Regions from separate parts of the Homo sapiens genome. Here region 2 is linked to region 1. Evidence: fine-mapped expression QTL. Tissue or cell type: monocytes after LPS. Region 1 holds a variant in brackets; the other region holds the start of a gene. All regions are shown on one strand. Distances are from middle to middle.

What was found. PIP is the estimated chance that this variant, and not a neighbour inherited with it, causes the effect.
Region 2: MFSD6L starts here. The variant in region 1 is fine-mapped to the expression of MFSD6L in monocytes after LPS (Quach 2016, PIP 0.95).

Annotation. Positions count from the first base shown.
Region 1 is chr17:8,848,515-8,859,690 of GRCh38, forward strand. It overlaps PIK3R6 (phosphoinositide-3-kinase regulatory subunit 6), which reads right to left. Exons shown (of 20, transcript NM_001010855.4): 2 at 1,268-1,371. The coding sequence starts at 1,280. Among named protein-coding and RNA genes, the nearest start is that of PIK3R6, 14 kb to the right of the region's middle. RefSeq lists an enhancer at 10,926-11,176. The variant T/C (reference allele first, on the strand shown) is at 4,843.
Region 2 is chr17:8,793,454-8,802,869 of GRCh38, forward strand. MFSD6L (major facilitator superfamily domain containing 6 like) reads right to left here and starts at 5,912. Exons shown (of 1, transcript NM_152599.4): 1 at 3,657-5,912. The coding sequence starts at 5,667. The coding sequence ends at 3,907. It overlaps PIK3R6 (phosphoinositide-3-kinase regulatory subunit 6), which reads right to left. Exons shown (of 20, transcript NM_001010855.4): 20 at 9,269-9,416. RefSeq lists a silencer at 5,986-6,045.

The DNA.
Region 1 (11,176 bases):
CTGCACTGAGTACTGTAGGCAGTTGTCACACAATGGTATCTGTGTGTCTAAACATATCTAAACATAGAAAAGGTACAGTAAAAATATGGTACTCTCTTATGGGACCGCTGCTGTTTATAAGGCTCGTCGTTGACCAAAACATTGCCAATATGCAGTGCCTGACTGTATTTAGGAGATTTTCACAGAGCTTCCCCATTCCGAGCCTCCCACCCCAAACCCCAGCTGGTTACAGATGACCCAGAATATTGTAACACCAGGATTCACTGGGGTTGCCTGACTCCATGGAGCTACTTCTGATTGGACGAGGCTCTCTGAGGATGGATGGATGGTTGGATGGATGGATGTCAAAAGAATTTATGCCATAGGAATATTAGCAACCGAGCAGCTGACCCTGCCTAGGGGATGCCCTTCCCTTCCCCAGGAGATGGATCTTTAGGGGAATTAGAGTCTCAGCGTGGTGGCCTAAGGTGTGATCTTTGACTTTCCGGGTGACCAATAGATGACACACATCTTGGTGGGGGTTGGTCATCTTTCCCTGTTGTCCCAAGTTGACTTAGGGTAAGAGTCCAGGCTTTGAAAATCAGCCGGACTAGGCCCCACTTTCTGGCTTTGCCACTTACTAGCTGTGTGGCTTTGAGCAAATTATATAACCTCTCCAAGCCTCAGTTTACCTCTCAGAAAAATGAGGATAATCATCGTGCTAGCCCCACCTCACAGAATCCTTCTGGCATTTTTGCGAAGCAATCCATACTGAAATCATTAAGCCTAGACACTGGAGCTAGACTATTGGGTTCCACTCCTGATTTGACCACTCAATAGCTATGTGACTGGGGGAAAAGTACCTGCCCCTGGCATGCCTCCATTTCCCCTCCTGTAAAACGAGAGTAATAATACCTGTCTTAGGAGGTTAACCAAGACTAAATGAGTTCATATTTGTCAAGTGCTTTTATCCCTCCTCAATCCATTGTAAGTGCTATATAGGTTTTTGTTAAATAGTCACAAGTATTTGGCAATCAATCTTGGCTATTCTTGTCATTATTCCCATTGTCAAGCTCAGTGTCCAGCGAGCAGTTGGAGCCTTGTGCAAGTGTGTAGATGTCCAACTCTCAAGATGTTCTTACATTTAGGCAGGATCCCTGAATTGGGGTCTTGCAGCCTGTCTATGTGCAGGGGGTCCTGCCAGCCCTAGAGGCATCCTCACCCATGAGAAGGGCCTTCCCCACTCGGCAGCAGGCTCACTAGACCCCTTTCCCCCCACCACACTGACCTGAGCTCTCCATGGGAGCCTTTGGGTGTAGGAGGAGGAGGATGTGGTTGTCTCGGGCAGCAGAATAGAGAACAAGGTGGTTGCTTTTCTGCACAGAGGTGGTTCTGCAAAATAAGAGGTAGTTAATTAGTGGAAGCAGTGGGAAGGTGCAGAAAGCACCTTGGGAAATGGAGAAGCTCCTAAGGGACCTAGGCTTCTAGCACACTGGGGGGAAGTCTAGATGTATTTAAGAAAACTTATGACTGGGTGCAGTGGCTCATGCCTGTAATCCCAGCACGTTGGGAGGCCAAGGCGGGTGGATCACTTGAGGTCAGGAGTTCGAGACCAGCCCAACAAACATGGTGAAACCCCGTCTCTACTAAAAATACAAAAAATTAGCTGGGCATGGTGGCAGGTGCCTGTAATTCCAGCTACTCAGGAGGCTGAGGCAGGAGAATCGCCTGAACCTGGGAGGCGGATGTTGCAGTGAGCTGAGATGGTGCCATTGCACTCCAGCCTGGGCAAGGGTGAGACTGGCTCAAAAAAAAAAAAAAAAGAAAGAAAAAAGAGAAAACTTATATAGTGCTTACTATGTGCCAGGCATCACTCTTCTAAGCACTTAAGAAATGCCAACTTTTTAATATTAATATTAAGCTTATGAGGCAGGTTCTATCTCTCCCCCCTCCCCAGTTCTGCAGATGGGGAAACTGAAACACAGAGAGGGTAAATAGCTATTCAAAGTTAAATAGCTAGTAAGCAAGGAATGAGGACTTGGAACTCAGACCGTCTGGCTCTAGAGCCCTCCCTTAAGCATGACCTCTGTCTGCTCCACTGTGACCCCAGTGGGAGGTCCTCCCAGAGTCTGCTCCCCAGAGCGATAAACCCAATGACTAGAACGCAGAGGAACTCCAAATAAACCTAAGAGATTGTTTTTGGAGAGAAAACAAGCGAACAAACAAACAAACGTATAACTGGGAAAGCTAATCTAAAAAGAGATAACGAAGAGACAATATTAGAAATGATAAATGTCATATATATATTTCTTTATACCAAAAAAGAAAATCTGAGTCCCCTGTGTCGCACATGGTTTTCTAGGACAATAAAAATGACTCAAAAGGCTCTAGAAGAGTTAGAAAAACTGCTTATATTTGTAACCAGTGAGGAAATAGAGACAGTTGTCAAAGAACTAGCTCTAAGAGAGTGGTGTCTGGCTCAGATAGTTCTTCTGATAAGTTTTTTCAAACCTACAAAGAAAATATCTACGTTATTTAATCTGCTCCAAAGCATGGAGAAAGAAGAGAAGATTCTCAGTTTATTGGACAAGGCCAGCTTCACCTTGATACCAAAATCTAATAAAGGTAGTTAAAAAAAAAATGGATCACGCACTTCACACCCATTGGAATGACCATTTTAGATATACAGAAAAAAAAAACAAAAACAAAAAAACAAAAAACCGGCCGGGCACGATGGTTCACTCCTGTAATCCCAGCATTTTGGGAGGCCGAGGCGGGCAGATCACGAGGTCAGGAGATGGAGATCATCCTGGCTAACATGGTGAAACCCTGTCTCTACTAAAAATACAAAAATTAGCCGGGCGTGGTGGTGGGCGCCTGTAGTCCCAGCTACTTGGGAGGCTGGGGCAGGAGAATGGCGTGAACCCCGGGAGGCGGAGCTTGCAGTGAGCCGAGATCGCGCCACTGCACTCCAGCCTGGGCGACAGAGTGAGACTCCGTCCCAAAACAAAACAAAACAAAACAAACCAACCAAACAAAAAACCACAAAATAACAAGCATTGGCAAGGATGTGGAGAAATTGGATTTGTTTGGAGTCCCCCTGCTTTCCAGTCATTGAGTTTATTGCTCTGGGGCGCAGACTCTGGGAGGATGTGGTGCATTGCTGGTGGGAATTCAACATGGCATCGCCGCTGTGGAAAATCGTATGGCATGTTCTTCAAAAAGTCAAGCATAGAATTATCACATGATCTAACAATTTCACTTTTAGGTAAAGACCCAAACGAATTGAAAACAGGAACTCAAACAGATACTTGCACACCAATATTAATAGAAGCATTATTCAAAACAGCAAAATGGTAGAAGCAACTCAAATGTCCATCAACAGAGAAGCAATGAACAGATAAACAAAATATGATTTATACATAGAGTGGAAAGTTATTCAGCCTTAAAAAGGAATGAAATTCAGATATATGCTGCATCATGGATGAACCTTGAGAACATTATGCTGAGTGAAGTAAGTCAGTCATAAAAGGACAAATATTGTATAATTCCACTAATATTAGATACCTAGAATAGGCAAATTCACAGAGGCAGAGACAGCAAGTATGACAGAGGTTACCAGGGACTGGGGAAGGGATGAAAGGGAAGTTACTGTTTAATGGGTACAGAGTCTCTGTTTGGAATGATGAGAAGGTTCTGGAAATGGATAGCAGTAATGGTTGCTCAATATTGTGAATGTACTTAATGCCATTGAATTATATACTTAAAAATGGTTAAGATGGTAAATTTTACATATCCATATTTTACCAAAATAGCAAACTAGACCACACTTACATGCAAATATCGATATAACATTTAAAAGTAGATATCAACTCATTGAATTCAGCAATGGATTGTAATTATAATGTACTACAATTTCAGCCTACTGACAATCATAGAAATGAATATTAAAATGAGAGTGGCAGGCCAGGTGCGGTGGCTCACACCTGTAATCCCAGCACTTGGGGAGGCCGAGGTGGGCGGATCATGAGGTCAAGAGTTCGAGACCAGCCTGACCAACGTGGTGAAACCCCGTCTCTACTAAAAAATAAAAAAATTAGCCAGGTGTGGTGGCGTGTGCCTGTAATCCCAGCTACTTGGGAGGCTGAGGTAGGAGAATCACTTGAACCTGGGAGGTGGAGGTTGTAGTGAGTCAAGATGTCGCTACTGCACTCCAGCCTGGGTGACAGAGGGAGACTCTGTCTCAAAAAAAAAAAAAAAGAGAGAGAGTGGCAAAAATTATGACAAAAGATAATGACATCCAGTATTGGCAAGGATAGGATATGAGAAAATTTCCAGTCATACATAGTTGGTGAGAAGAGAAATTAGTATAGCCTTTCTGGGTGATTGCTGGACAATATTTATCAAAATTCAAAATATTCATACTTTTTTGTCTAAGCAATTCGACCTTTAAAAACCTATCTGAAGGGAAATATTGGACAAATGGATAAATGATATGTACAACAGCATTCATTAAAACATTGTTAACAATAGAGTACAACCAGAAAAAAAAAATAAAGGCACAATTATAGAGTACCAAGTAAATAAATTAATCTGTGCAACAAAATACTATGCAGTTATAAAATTATGGTGTACATCTGTATTGGCTGAATTCGGAAGATACAATACCATTTACAATAGCTCCAAATTTTTTTTTTAAATAAATATTTAGGTGGGGCGCAGTAGCTCACGCCTGTAATCCCAGCACTTTGGGAGGCCGAGGGGGGCAGATCACAGGATCAGCAGATGGAGACCATCCTGGCTAACATGGTGAAACCCCGTCTCTACTAAAAATACAAAAAATTAGCCAGGGGTGGTGGCGGG[T/C]GCCTGTAGTCCCAGCTACTCGGGAGGCTGAGGCAGGAGAATGGTGTGAACTCGGGCAGTGGAGCTTGCAGTGAGCCGAGATTGTGCCACTGCACTCCAGCCTGGGTGACAGAGCAAGACTCCATCTCAAAAAAAAAAAAAAATAATAATAATAATAATAAAATAATAAATAAATATTTAGAGATAAATCTAACAAAACGTGCAGGAGCCATATGATGAAAACTATGAAATGCTAATTAGATAAATCACAGAAGACCTAAATAAATGGAGAGAAATACTGTGTTCATTGTTTGGAAGACCCAGTATAGTTAAGATGTCAATTCTCAGCCAGGCACAGTGGCTCACATCTGTAATCCCGGCACTTTGGGAGGCCAAGGGGGGCAGGTCACGAGGCCAGGAGATCAAGACCATCCTGGCTAACATGATGAAACCCTGTCTCTACTAAAAATGGAAAAAATTAGCTGGGTGTGGTGGCATGCGCCTGTAGTCCCAGCTACTCGGGAGGCTGAGGCAGGAGAATCGTTTGAACCCAGGAGGCGGAGGTTGCAGTGAGCTGAGATCATGCCACTGTACTCTAGCCTGGTGACAGAGAGAGACTCCGTCTGAAAAAAAAAAAAAAAAGTCAATTCTCTCCAAAATCATTTACATATTTAAGGTAATTCCAATAAAAATACCAGCAGGATTTTTTTTTGTAGATACATATAAGTCAATTCTAAAGTTTATAGGGAAAGGCAGAGGAATTGGATTAGCCAAACAGTTTTGAAAATGAATAATGCCTGAGAACTCACACTCCTTTATTTTTATTTTTTTTTGAAACGGAGTCTTGCTCTGTCGCCAGGCTGGAGTGCGATGCGTGATCTTGGCTCACTGCAACCTCCGCCTCCTGGGTTCAAGCAATTCTCCTGCTTCAGCCTCCCAGGTAGCTGGGACTACAGGCACACGCCACCATGCCCAGGTAATTTTTGTATTTTTAGTAGAGACAGGGTTTCACTATGTTGGCCAGGCTGGTCTTGAACTCCTGACCTCGTTATCCTCCCGCCTCGGTCTCCCAAAGTGCTGGGATTACAGGTGTGAGCCACCACGCTCAGCTTCGCACTCCTTATTTTAAGAATTACTATAAAGTTATTAGTGAAGGGCTAGACACATAAATCAATGGAACAGAACGAAGAGTTCGGAAGCAGGCCCACACAGATATGGCTAATTGATTTTTGATAAAGTTGTAAAGGCAAGTCAATGGAGAAAGGAGTCTTTTCAACAAATGGTGATGGAACAATTGATCATCGATATGCAAAACAAGAAGCAAAACCTTGACGTAAATTCCAGACCTTACACAAAAATAAACTAAAAGTGGACATAGATTTGAATGTAAAATTCAAAACAATAAACTTTTAGAAGAAAGCATAGGAAAAAATCCTTGTAACCTCATGTGAAGGAAGAAGTTTTTAGATACAATACCAAAGCATGATCCATAAGAGGAAAAACATGACAAATTAGACTTCATCAAAATTTAAAACTTTGGTTTTATGACAGATACCTTTAACAAAATGAAAAAACGGGCCGGGCACAGTGGCTCACACCTGTAATCCCAACATTTGGGAGGCCAAGGTGGGTGGATCACCTGAGGTCAGGAGTTCAAGACTAGCCTGGCCAATATAGTGAAACCCCATTTCTACTAAAAATACAAACATTAGTTGGCTGTGGTGGCTCATGCCTGTAATCCCAGTTACTCAGGAGGCTGAGGCAGGAGAATCACTTGAACCCGGGCAGCAGAGGTTGTAGTGAGCTGAGATCGTGCCACTGGACTCTAGCCTGGGTGACAGAGCGAGACTCCATCTCAGAAACAAAACAAAACAAAACAAAACAAAACAAAACAACAATAAAATAAAATAAAATAATAAAATAAAATGAAGAAGCAAAGTATAGACCTAGAGAAAATATTTGCAAATCACATCTGACAAAGAAAAAAAAAAGAAAACTAGGATAAATAAATAACTCTCAAAATTCAACAGTAAGAAAACAAATAATACTCCCCAAATGGGCAAAAGATCTAAATAAATACTTTACTAAAAAAGATATGTGGATGGCAAATAAACACATTAAAAAAATGCTCAATGCTATCAGCAGTTTGGGAAAGGCAGATGAAAACCATGAGATCTCACTATATGCCTATTAGAATGACTAAGATTTTAAAATGAGCAATAGAAAGTGCTGGAGAGCACACGGAGGAACTGAAATTCTCTCTTTTTAAAAATTATACTTTAAGTTCTGGGATACATGTGCAGAACGTGCAGGTTTGTTACATTGGTATACACGTGCCATGGTGGTTTGCTGCACCCATCAACCCGTCAGGAGGAATTGGAATTCTCATACGTTACTGGTGAGAATGCAAAATGGCACAGCCGTTCTGGAAAACAGTTTGACAATTTCTCATAAAGTTATGCGTCACTTACTGTATGATCCCGTAATCCCTAGCTTTTTCCTCCAGAGAAATAAAAACTTATGTTCACACAAACACCTGCTCATGGATATATATAGCAGCTCTATTCAGAATGGCCCCAAACTGGAAACAACACAAATGCCTTCAGTGGGTACGTGAATGAGCAAACTGTGATACACCCACACAGCAGAATCCTCGGCATTAAAAAGAGAACTACGTGCAACGACACGCGTGAATCTCAGAGACATGCTGAGTAAAGGCAGCCAGGCGCTAAATCCTGCATGCCGTATGGTTCCATTTATATGACATTCTAGAAACGAAAATAAAAACTACAGGGTCAGAAAATAGGTCAGTGTCAGATAAAGGAGTCTTTATCTCTTTTTTAGTCAAACTTTTAATTCTGAGATAACTGTAAATTCCCATGCAGTGGCAAGAAATAGCACAGAGTTTCTGGGTACCCTTTACCCAGTTTCCCCCCAGTGATAACATCTTGCAAACAATGTTACTGTATCAAAATCAAGATATTGGTCAGGCGTGGTGGCTCACGCCTATAATCCCAACACTTTGGGATGGTGAGGCAGGTGGATCACTTGAGGTCAGGAGTTCGAGACCAGGCTGGCCAAAATGGTGGAACCACGTCTCTAATAAAAATACAAAAATTAGCCAGGCATGGTGGCAGGTGCCTGTAATCCCAGCTACCCGGGAGGCTGAAGCAGGAGAATCGCTTGAACCCAGGAGATGGAGTTTGCAGTGAGCTGAGGTCTTACCACTGCACTCCAGCCTGGGTGAAAGAGTGAAACTCCATCTCAAAAACAAACAAACAAAAAACCCCAGGATGTTGATGTCGATACATTTTATTCCGATTTCCCCAGTTTCACCTGTACTTGTGTGTGTGTCAGTCTCTTACCTTTTAATGATACACACTAAACTACAAAAAAAGTGATATTACTTACCCATAAACAGTGGGGTCACAGGTAATTTTTAATACATTTCTACATTTTCTGATTTCTTAATCTTAAGTATATTTGACCTTATTTTTTACTGTGTAACAGATGGCACACACAAAAGAAGAGAGCTAATATATTATGTTCAGGGACATAGTAATTACATGAACATCTGGGAGCCCGCCAGTCAATTTAAGAACGTTGTGCTGTGGGTTTAACGTAACCTTTGCACACCCCTGCCTGGAGCACCCTTCCCCCAGCTTTCCCCACAGCTGGCTCCCCCTCGACATTCAGGTCTTGTTGTCAATGTCACTGCCTCAGAGGCCTTTCCTGAACATCCTGTCCAAAATAGCCCTCCCTGTCACACTCTAGCACACTCTGATTTTATTCATAGCATTTATCAGTATGGAAATTTTTCCTGTCAGGCTTAGTTTTCTTGGCTAGTCATTAGAATGCGAACTCGGCAAATACTGGGATGGGGCGTGTCTCCTTCACTGCAGCATGTCCAGCATCTAGGGCAGCAGCCACTCAGTGGACAATGAATACCTATTTTAGATAAATATTTGATGAATGAATGAAAGTGAAGAATATTGCCAAAAGCCACGTGGCCATGAAGGATAGAACCAGGGCTAGAGCCCAGATCTCAACCTGGGGCGTGGGGTCATGGCCACTTCCCCTGACGTCCGCATGCCTTCCTTTCCCCTCTGTAAACCTCACAGAACCCCCCTCTGTCTTTGTGAAATAAAATGAACACAAACTTCTGTCTGGGGCGGCCTGGGTTAATAATGAACACGGGGCAGCCTCGAAAGAAAAGAAATCTCACAGATAAAGACTAAAAGAGAAGTGTAAGATACCAGGAATTTTTGTGGCAAATGGAGAGTGCTTCTGGGCTGATTTTTAATTGAAAGTAAAATTCCCCTTTGGGAGGCTGAGGCAGGCGGATCACAAGATCAGGGATCGAGACCATCCTAGCTAACATGGTGAAACCCCGTCTCTACTAAAAATACAAAAAATTAGCTGGGTGTGGCGGCAGGTGCCAGTAATCCCAGCTACTTGGGAGGCTGAGGCAGGAGAATCGCTTGAATCCGGGAGGCAGAGGTTGCAGTGAGCTGCAATCGTGCCACTGCACACCAGCCTGGGCAACAAGAGTGAAACTCTGTCTCAAAAAAAAAAAAAAAAAAGGGAAAGTAAAATTCTAAGAAACTTTACCAGTAACTGTCAGAAAGCCTCCCTATTCATTTGCTCATTCCTTCATTCACTCACGCATTCACTCATCAAACATTTATTCAGCGTTTCTATATATTTGTGCAGGTGCTGCTTCCTTGCTCCTCCCACAGGAGACCTTTGTGGTCGATTTCCTGTCCTTTGGGGCTGCTGACCACACCAGTGTGGGGGAAGAGCCCCCAGGGGATGAGCTTGCACGTAGACAGGAAATGGAAATAGAAGCAGCTCATTCTTAAAATGCATCAACATCAAATGTGTCTTCGTTTCAGGAATGAGAAGAATTTTTTAGGAAATAAAGCTTGCCCTTTCAAGCACCAAACCATGCCTCTGAATGTTTTCTCAATTAATCTTTTTTTTTTTTTTTTTTTTTTTTTGAGACAGTTTTGCTCTTGTCGCCCAGGCTGGAGTGCAGTGACGCGATCTCGGCTCACTGCAACCTCCGCCTCCTGGGTTCAAACGATTCTCTTGCCTTAGCCTCCCTGAGGCTAGGAATTACAGGCACCCGCCGCCACCCCTGGCTAATTTTTGTATTTTTAGTAGAGACAGGGTTTCGCCATGTTAGCCAGGCTGGTCTCGAACTCCTGACCTCAGGTGATCCACCCACCTCGGCCTCCCAGAGTGCTGGGATTAGAGGCGTGAGCCAGGCGCCTGGCTGTTTTCTCAATGAGTCTCAATGGAAGCTCATTGTATGCACCGTGCCATAAAACGGTGGCGATGGCAGGAGCTATCAGTAGGCGAGGGTAGCCCTATCCTACATTGAGTGGCTGTTACTGTTTGACTTCTCATGTATGATTCCTCATTTCAGCAGCACCAGCTGTGTTCTGCACTTAGTGGGTGAGTGGAGGCTGCAGTCCAGCCCACCGCTCTGCTGGCCTTTTTGTAATTTACTCAGGCAGGGAGGGTGAGGTTTTGCAATTCATCCATCCAAAGAGGAACTTGCTGTAATTTGTCTACTCAGAGGGGTGCCTCTTTCTGATTTGAACAAAGTGCCTTCTGTGTTGGCTGCAGCCCTGCCTGGGCTGTGTCTGCTCCTCCACCCAACTGCCAGTTTGCTGAAGGCTGGGAAGCCGGAATAAGCACATGCAATTGTCTTGTATGTAAAATGAAGAAACAAAGCCTGAGAACTGATCAATGAAAAGAGCATCAAACTTCCATCCATGGACTTGCAACTTCTATTTGCTCAGAGGGCCCTCTGGCTGTCTTCTGAGTTCCTGGCAGTGTTTTGGGTGGCTGAGGTTGGTGAGTAAATCAAAGAGCCTCTTCAGAACATAATCCATGGGGCAGAAATTGCACAAGACCTGAGAGGTTAGAGATGAATGAATGAGACATAGTCCTTGCCCCCTGGGGTGCGTGGTCTACCAGTCTGTCACCTCATAATGACCGCAGGGTGGCTGTACTTGCCCAAGACCCCTGGAACAGACGTCACACACCTATGGCCCACCATTAGCACACTGAAACTGTCTCACCGCCCCATGCACGCAGCATGCTTGTGATGGTTTATGTGTCAACTTGACCAGGCCAAGGGAGGCCCAGATGGCTGGTGAAGCATTATTTCTGGAGGTGTCCATGAGGCTATTTCCAGGAAAGATGAGCATCTGAATGCAGGGAGTGAGTCAAGATCTGCCCTCAGCCATGTGGGTGGGCATCACGTGATCTGCTGAGGGCCTGAATAGGAGAAGAGGGAGGAGGAAGGGCAGATGTGCTCTCTGTGCTTCAGCTGGGACATCCA
Region 2 (9,416 bases), 56 kb before region 1:
ACTCTAGTAATACTTTTTCTGCAGCATCTCCCACACTGTCCTGTGCTTCCGTGTGTGTGTGTGTGTTGTGTGTGTGTTTGTGTGTTTGTGTGTGTGTGTAAGTAAATCTTCTAGTTAGACTGTTAGCTTCTTGAGGGTGTGGACTGTGCATTTTATTCATCCTTGAATTCCCCATGGCAAGTAGCACAACTTTTTTTTTCCCCTTTGGAAAAAGGGGCTTCATACATTAAAGAAAACATAAAGTCAAACATTAACTAAATAGCCCAAATGAACATCTTGGCCTCCCATCCTTCCCTTAAAATCTTTTAGATCCATCAATCATCACCTCCCTCAGTCTTCGGTCTTGTCCTGTACACCCCCTCCCCCCAACTCACGCTTCTTTTTCTCTTCCTTCTTCCTCTTGTTCAGGCTAGATCACACTTACTTAACTCTTTTCTTAAGCCAGTTCCTGTTCCTCATCCTTTTGTTTAAGAGGACATACATGTGTTTGCTTTTTGGTATTATTGTATGTTCTGTTGAAATAGTAAATATTATCTACTATCCAGTCAATTTCAAGTGATGGCTACCTTAGATCTTAATATTTAATCCCCCCCCTCTTTCCCCTCAATTTCTCCAGCATAGAGCACAGTGATTAAAATCTCAGGCCCAGGAACCACCAGGCTGGATCTGAATACCAACTCTGCCACTTACTAGCTGCGTGACCTCAGGCAAGTTACTGAACCTTCGGTTCTGCCATCTGAAACTGGAGATGCTAATGGTGACTACGTCCTATGATTACTTGATGAGCTAGTACGCGTACACCACGTACCTTGTTTAGAACAGTGCCTGGCCTAGAGTGACCACTCAATAGTTGTTATTTGTTTCACTGCAAATGGAAACATTTGGCAAAGAACTGTTGAGACAAATAGAGCTGGAAAGGACAACCGAGTAAACAGTGCTTGGTTAACCACATCAGAATCACTCGGAGATTGCTCCAAAAATGCAGATTACTGAGCCCCACCTGTGAGATTCTGGTGGAACCCAGGAACCTGGCTTTTTGCAAATGCTCCTCCTACTTGGATCGACAGCCAGACTACCGGCACAGAAGAAAATGCCCCAAATTTGGAGTAAGGAAATCCAGGACTCTGGTAGTATTTCTGCCAGTGACCCAGTGTGTGACTTCTGAGACTACACTTTCTCATTTGTAAAATGCAGATAACAAATTTGATTTATTCATAGAGTAGTTGTGGGGGTCACATTACTAAAGTCATTTCTGTCGGGGAAGCTGGCTTAGTGGGGTGAAAGGAATGCAGGCTTTGCAATAAGCTGGACCCGGCTGTGAGTTCCATCGTGGAGGCCGCTGCAGATGTCGTTAGTTGCCAATTCTATATCCAGCCCCCTCTTCCTAACGCAACCCTGATTTTGCTTGGTGTGTAACTGTGCCTAGTTGAAAATACTTCCTCCCAGACTTCCTTGCAGCTGGGTGGCCATGTGACACGGTTCTCTCTGCTGAGGAGTTTCTGGGAAGGCTTATCTTTCCTTTTTCTTGTTTGTTTGTTTGTTTGTTTGTTTGGAAACAGGGTCTTGCTCTGTAACCCAGGCTGGAGTGCATTGGCACAAACAACTCACTGCAGTCTTAAACTCCTGGGCTCAAGCTATCCTCCCACCTCAGCCTCATGAGTAGCTGAGACTACAGATGCACACCCCATACCTGGCTAATTATTATTTTTTTTTAAGAGACAAGGTCTCACCATGTTTCCCAGGCTGGTCTCCAACTCCTGGGCTCAAGCAATCCTCCTGCCTCGGCCTCCCAAAGTGCTGGGATTATAGGCGTGAGCCACCCACCGTGCAGCCTATTTTCTTGATACAGACACTTGTTCCTGTTTCTCCCTTTGCCCTATTGTCTTCCCCTTTTCTTACTGCCTGGAACATGGATGAAAGGCTTGGCAGAGCAGCAGCCATCTTGTTCCTATGAGGGTACAAATCTGGGAGGGTAGCTTACAGGCTGAGTATGACAGTGTGAGGAGATGAAAAGATTCTAGATCCCTAGTGGCATCATCCAGCAGTGGCAGCATCTCTGGGCTGCCCACCCCTAAATGTTTTATATATATATGAGACAAATCTCTATTGTTTAGGGTGGAGGTAATTTTTTTGTTGATTATTTGTACCTTAAACTTCTTAGGGAGAATTAAAAAACAAATAAAGGGCCAGGTGCAGTGGCTCACGCCTATAATCCCAGCACTTTGGGAGGCTGAGGCGGGCAGATCACGAGGTCAGGAAATCGAGACCATCCTGGTCGACATGGTGAAACCTCATCTTTACTAAAAACACACACACACAAAAAATAGCTGGGTGTGGTGGTGCACGCCTGTAATCCCAGCTACTTGGCAGGCTGAGGCAGGAGAATCGCTTGAACCAGGGACTTGGAGGTTGCAGTGAGCCGAGATGGCGCCACTGCACTCCAGCCTGGCGACAGAGTGAGACTCTGTCTCAAAACAAAACAAAACAAAACAAAAAAACAAACAACAACAACAACAAATAAAGATCCTAGAACCATGTCTGACCCAGTGGACATTCATATATCTGCTTCCCCTTCTCCAGCTGTGAGACGTTTTCTGCATTTGTGCAGTGAGGCTTCTTCTAAATTCAATATCCTATGTTTAACTAATGATAAGGTCGAAGAATTGGGCCCTGGGACTGGCCTCTGAAATAAATGGCCCTTTATTCCAGGCCCTTCCCCTGGGGGAGTTTGGGAAGGCAGAAGCACTAGTTTGTCACTCCCAAAACCCCACCAAGTGCCTGGGCACAGGTACAGCATGGAGAACCTATAGCACCCTGACCTATGGAGATGTCTGCACCCCAATAAAACAGATGTTAAAATCTCCATGTGCTTTGTGAGGCAGAGCATGCAAAATGTGAGTTCAAAAGACATGAAATTGCCCCTGCTCTGATGTAAATATAGATGATGATTCTAAGTGGGACACACATGTGTGAGAAGGTAAGAATGAAACCTATTAACCTCCCACTTCCCCCCCAACACACATACATTTCCCATTATTTTCTCCTGTTGGAAGTACTTGGGTGTGAGTGTGGGCACCTGTATACCAGTGGGAACAGAAAGGAGTTTGTTTTCATTACCATCCTTTTTTTGAGATGGAGTCTTGCTCTGTCACCAGGCTGGAGTGCAGTGGCATGATCTCAGCTCACTGCAACCTCCACCTCCAGGGTTCAAGTGATTCTCTTTCCTCAACCTCCTGAGTAGCTGGGACTACAGGTGCGCGCCACCACGCCCAGCTAATTTTTGTGTCTTTAGTAGAGACGGGGTTTCACCATGTTGGCCAGGATGGTCTCGATCTTTTGACCTCATGATCCACCCGCCTCGTCCTCCCAAAGTGCTGGGATTACAGGCATGACCCACCACGCCCGGTCCTCCATTACCATTCTTACCTGCCCACAGCATGGCTTTCACAGAAGCAGGCTAATGCCTTTATGACCCCTGGGAATGCCATGATTCATCCAAGTCAGCTGCCCTCTCTGCCAACTGAATCCTGCAGGTCCCCATGGTCTTCCTGGCACTGACAGTTTGATTTGATCGCTTCAGCCATTGCTGAATTCAACAGCACCTGAGTCAGGACTTTTGCAAACCTTAAACGTAAACATATAGTGACTATAGAGGGAACTTTTTAAAAAGCAAATGTATTCTTCCTCCATTATCTAAAAAAGATTGGCAAAAAGTTAAATCTCCTTTTACTTCAAAAGTAAAGAAAATCATGCAATGAGATGATCCTGTTGGGCCTTCAGCACAGACCCATCCTCTCTTCCCCGGCTCCCAGCAGTCCAGGGCAGGTTTCTGTCCTCAGCAGGCTGAGTTTTGTTCAGTCCATTCGTTCCTTGCTGGATCAGCACACTCTGGATTTCTCAGCCCTTTCAGTCTGAGTGTTCCTCCCTCATGGCCTTCACAAGCCAGTCCTGTTCTGTCCCCTGCTCAGAGTCACTGGTGTCACTCACCTCCATGGACAGCAGCTTCGAGTACTTGATTTTCCGCTCTCGGGGCAGCCTCCGCTGTATGGACAGGAGCAAGGCCAACCAGAGCAACAGGGCCACACAGCAGGCCTGGTAGAGCACAGCCAGGCTGAAGCGCATCACCACGAAGCCCCCGACAAAGCTGCCCAGGCTACAGCCACTCCCGTAAAAGTGGCCTCGGAACAAGGCACTCAGAGCCCTCTCCATGCGGGGAGTGGCCAGGTCCTCTACTGAGGCCCCCACAGCCCACCACAAAGCTCTGTTGCTAATGGCACTCAAGATCTGAATGGGGAGGACGGACCACCAGCTCCAGAGGAAAGAGTAGTACAGCAGCTGCCCAGCGAGGCAGCTCAGCCCCAGCCCCACCAGGCCCGTCCTGGACAGTTTCCTAAGCAATGTAGCTTTGAACGGATGAAGCAGAATTTCCCCCAGCAAGCTGAGGGCGACCGAGAAACCCATGACCAGCTCGCCGCTCCCATGGTCCTTCATGTGCCAGAACAGAAAGTTCTGGACAGTACTGACGATGGCTCCTACCAAAACAGTGGTGGAGGCGAGGAGAATGAGGTGGGGGTCACCCCCCACAATGGACAGTGCTTTGACCCTTTTGTAGCTGGGCTCCCACTGCTGACAGATGGGAATGGGAAAGGCAATGCTCACCAGTAAGGCCAGGGTGCTGACCACCGAGTACCCATAGAAGTGGACCACACCTCGGGGGCCACTGGTCATCAGGAAGCAGTCCAGCTGCCCCACCAAGGCTGTGATGCCACACACGCCTGCCGACATGCCCAGCAACCTCCAGACCCACAGGCTTCTGTATCGGTCAGTGGCATCCACAAAATCCAGGAACTCATAAAGGCTGTCATCTGCCACCTGCTCCAGAGGCGCTGTCAGCAGCTCCCAGAACGCCACGGACCCCAAGGAGAGGATAAAAGTCCGCCGCAACGCCTCCAAGGACAGGTCAAAAGCCCAGGCTTTCCCCTTGGTCCCTGACAAATTGGCTGGATTCCCGGGCCCTTTCCCCCCAGGAAGCAAGGGGAGGGCTGTCTTGACCACCTCAAAAGTAACTTCCCAGGGATGATCTTTCAGCCCCGAAGTGACAGGATGGAGGAGAGCTTGGGATGTGGTCCTAGCTCCTTCAACGGAGGGCGCTAAGTAGACGTGCAGATCACGGAAAGTTTCTCGGTCACTTTCACCAGGTGGGTTTCTGAAGCCAGGCATTTCCACCTCTGCAGTCCTCTTGGCTGGGTGGCTGGAGGCAGACTCTTGGGCCGAGGTGATGTTCACAGGTAGCGTGACCCCCGGGAGTGCGTCTGTGCTGGTCAGGCCGCTGCTTCCATTACAAGGGAAGTGCACCCGATTTTTGTCTACCGGTGGGACCAGGACCATCAGCAGGCTGGCCCCCACCGAGCCGAGCAGGGAGCCGATCAGAAGCGCTCTCCTTTTCCGGTAGCTTTTGGCCAGGAAGGCACAGACGGGAGCCCAGAAGGCAGCGATTAGGTGCTTGGTTCCCATTAGGGTGCCCACCCAGGGCGCGGCCAAGCCCAGCTGCCTCAGGTAAAGGGTCAGGAACGGGGTCACGCAGGCTTCCCGCACCCCGCACACCAGGTGGAAGAGCTTGGCCACCCCCAGCGCCCTGCTGATGTCCCACCGGGGGTTGGCACTCATGGCTGCCGGGCTCTGTCAGGCCTGGGCCGACGGAGGGCGGAGCTGGGCGCAGGGCGGGCGCGGCCCCAGGTACCCGGGAGGGAGGCTTGGGGGACCGGGGCTCGGAGCGAGTGGGACTGCGCCCCCGGTCTGGGGCGGCGCCGCGGTCACCAGGTCAACGGCCGCCCCCGGCCACAGCCCCCAGGTCCTGCCGTTGGACCGAAAGGGGCCCCGCCCGGAGGGAGAGGCGGGGCGGGGGCGAAGGTGGGGGCGGGGCCAGCGCACCTGCGAGCCGCACCTGCCACGTCCCACCGCCTCCGCGGGCCACCTGCCCGGACGTGCGCAGGTGCGCTAGGGGCGCGTCCGGGGGCCTGTAGGGTGCGCTCTGAGCTAGGCCTCGGGCCCCGCCTGGCCTCTGGCTGCCAATGTGGCCCAGGAGCCTGAGCTAAACGCCTGGACTGCTTCAGGCAAGTAAAACCGTCAGAGTCGGCGTGGGGGGGAGCCAGAATGGAATGAATGGTATCCACCAGGCTGTCTCCCTCATCTTCTTCAGGTCTGTACTGGAATGCACCCTGATCAGTGACCAACCACAGACAGAGATCAACACGGTCCACTCTGACATCGCAAATCCCATACCCCTGTACCCACCCCGCCCCCAAGACTCCCACTCCCCTGCCCTACTTGATCGTTCTCTCTAGAACTTATCACTGACCAAGGCACTACGGGCTTATATTTCATGTGTTGACTTTGTTTATTGTCTGTCTCCACCAGAATCCAAGCTCCAGGAAGGCAGGTATTTTTGTCCCCGGGGCCTAGAATTGTTTCATTGGATGCATACTGCCCTCGGAAATGGCATGACCTTGGGTGACATGGTTGTCTCCAGCTGGGACAGTCCCTAAGGAGGGCTGACAGCTGATGGCAGTCGTCCAGGGGAACTCCTTGCAGCCGATCGCCAGCACATGGCAGTCCCCAGAGCCATATGTATGTGCTGCACAGTTTTAACCTACACCTAAGGGTGGTCTGGTGCCCTGTTTGAGAGTACACACACTTGAGGTGGTTAGCTAGCATTTCATCAAAAAGACAGAGACAGCTAGTACAAGCACGTCGACAATCTTAAATCAACAGAAGTGTCTTCACTAATGGACATAATAGATATTAGAAATAGTTTTTCACTGGTGAAATTAGTGGTGTCCAAGCCACCTGGATTGGAGATAATTTTTTTGAAGGCATTTCCTCTCTTGCTGGAACAGGCTATAATAATCTAGAGATGGCCTGGTGCGGTGGCTCATGCCTGTAATCCCAGCACTTTGGGAGGCCGAGGCAGGTGGATCACGAGGTTAGGAGATCGAGACCATGCTGGCTTACACGGTGAAACCCTGTCTCTACTAAAAATACAAAAAAATTAGTTGGTTGTGGTGGTGTGTGCCTGTAGTCCCAGCTCCTTGGGAGGCTGAGGCAGGAGAATGGCATGAACCCGGGAGGTGGAGCTTGCAGTGAGCCGAGATCACGCCACTGCACTCCATCCTGGGCAACAGAGTGGGACTCCGTCTCAAAAAAAAAAAAAAAAAATCTAGAGATGCCAGTAGTCCAAACCCTTTGGAAGGATGCTATAGGCTTTGCTTCAAAATGGTCCAGTGTGCAGCTCCTGATTCAGTAAACTTTTCATACAAGGTTTGCTCAGAGCACCTAATTTGGCTGGGGGTGGAGTGGAACTGCTTGCCAACACATGTCTATGTGTAAGGGAATTCGGCCTATGACTTGCCTGCATTGTCAGCTGGTAGAGAGTATGTTGGGGAGCAGGCCCAGGGGCCTCACTTAACCTAAAAAACTGGTAAACTCTGCAGACATCTACTGAAAACCTAATGATTGGTGATGAAATTGGTATGAATCCGTTTATATCATACCAATGGCAGGAAAAATAAAATCTAGTCTCCTCCAGGTAAACTCACTCAAATTCAGTGCTACTGCAATCATTTCAGGTTTAAAACCACCTCAGTCACACTAATGATTGCCCTACTCCTGCCCCTCCCTGGGTTCTTCTGTGGGCAGCCTCAGTGGAGGATAGCGCATCCATCCACTTCTCAGTCCTGACCTGTCCTGGGTTCATCTCCACTGGGAGGCAGATGTCAGACTCCAATGTGCCTGGACATGTGCAGGTGTGCGAGGGGCATGTCCTGGGGCCTGCAGGGTGCACCTGGAGCTAGACCAAGGGCCCCGCCCAGCCTCTGGCTGCCCATGTTGCCCAGGAACTTGGGCTAAACACCTGGATTGCTTCAGGCAAGTAAAACCATCAGTCAGGGTGGGGGCAGTGAGAATGGAGTGAATGGCATCCTCCAGGCTCCCTCCCTCACTGCACCATGCTGGAGTCTGTGGAGGTGCCTACAATTCTGCACCTGGCCTTCAGGTGCCATGCTCCACACTGCTGCCTGCAGCTGCACCATTTTCCCTTTGAGCTTGCCTGCTTTCAGCCACCCGAGAAAATCTCCGCCTGCTTCCCATGTCCTGTACAAGCACAGGGAATCTCTCTAAGACTGACCTTGGACCCCTCTGGCTCTGCACCCCAGGTGGTCCATCTTACACTCCCCTTGGCATTGAGAAGGTATCCTGCCATTGAGACTTGCTTCCACTCCTGGGGCAATTTGGCCCAAAGCAAGGCGCCCTCTTCTCTATTCTTGGATTCCCAAACTTAAAAGGGAATCTTCTACAGGTGATAGGACTCAAGTCCAAGCATTTTTGTTTTCTCTGTTACTCTCCCCCCACACCATACCTATTTCTGGGGATGAAGAAACTGAAGATGTGTCATTGATCTTTCTATTTTACACTTGGATGTAAGTTTTTGAACATAAAAGCCAAGAATTTTGGTGTCTTTAATCTCTGGCTTGGCCAGTGTGGTGGCTCACGCCTGTAATCCCAGCACTTTGGGTGGCCGAGGTGGGAGGATCCCTTGAACCAAGGAATTCAAGACCAGCCTGGGCAACTTAGGAAGACCTCATCTCTACAAAAAAAAAAAAAAAAAAAAAAAAAAAAGCCCCAAAACGGCCGGGTGCAGTGGCTCATGCCTGTAATCCCAGCTCTTTGGGAGGCTGAGGCGGGCAGATCACCTGAGGTCAGGAGTTTGAGACCAACCTGGCCAACATGGTGAAACCCTGTCTCTACTAAAAGTACAAAAATTAGCAGGGCGTGGTGGTGCATGCTGGTAATCCTAGCTACTTGGGAGGCTGAGGCAGGGAGAATCGCTTAAGCCCGGGAGGTGGAGGTTGCAGTGAGCTGAGATCATGCCATTGCACTCCAGCTTGGGTGACAGAGCAAGACTGTCAAAAAAAAAAAAAAAAGGCCCCAAAACAAAAAATCCCAAATGTAGTAGGGCATGGTGTCATGCACCTGTGGTCCCAGCTACTTGAGAAGCTGAGGTGGGAGGATCGCTTGGGCCTGAGAGATGGAGGCTGCAGTGAGCTGTGATTGTGCCACTGCACTCCAGAGCAGTGACAGAGTAAGCAAGGGGCAGGAGACAGAACACACTAGTTTATACTTCACAGAACTCTTACCTGGCCCAAGTGGACTCAATAGGTTATAAAAAGGACTGCCCTGATGATTCCTATTAACATATAAATATTGCCAGGTATGAGATGAAAGCAGAAAGACTTCAGTGTACATTTATTGAGTCTGACATTTTTCTCTCACCTGATAGAGACACCTGCCTGGGCTGAGTGAGGTGGGCAGTGGCCTGAGAGTGGGAAGGGAAGAGACTTGGGAGGGAGGTGGTGCTGTTG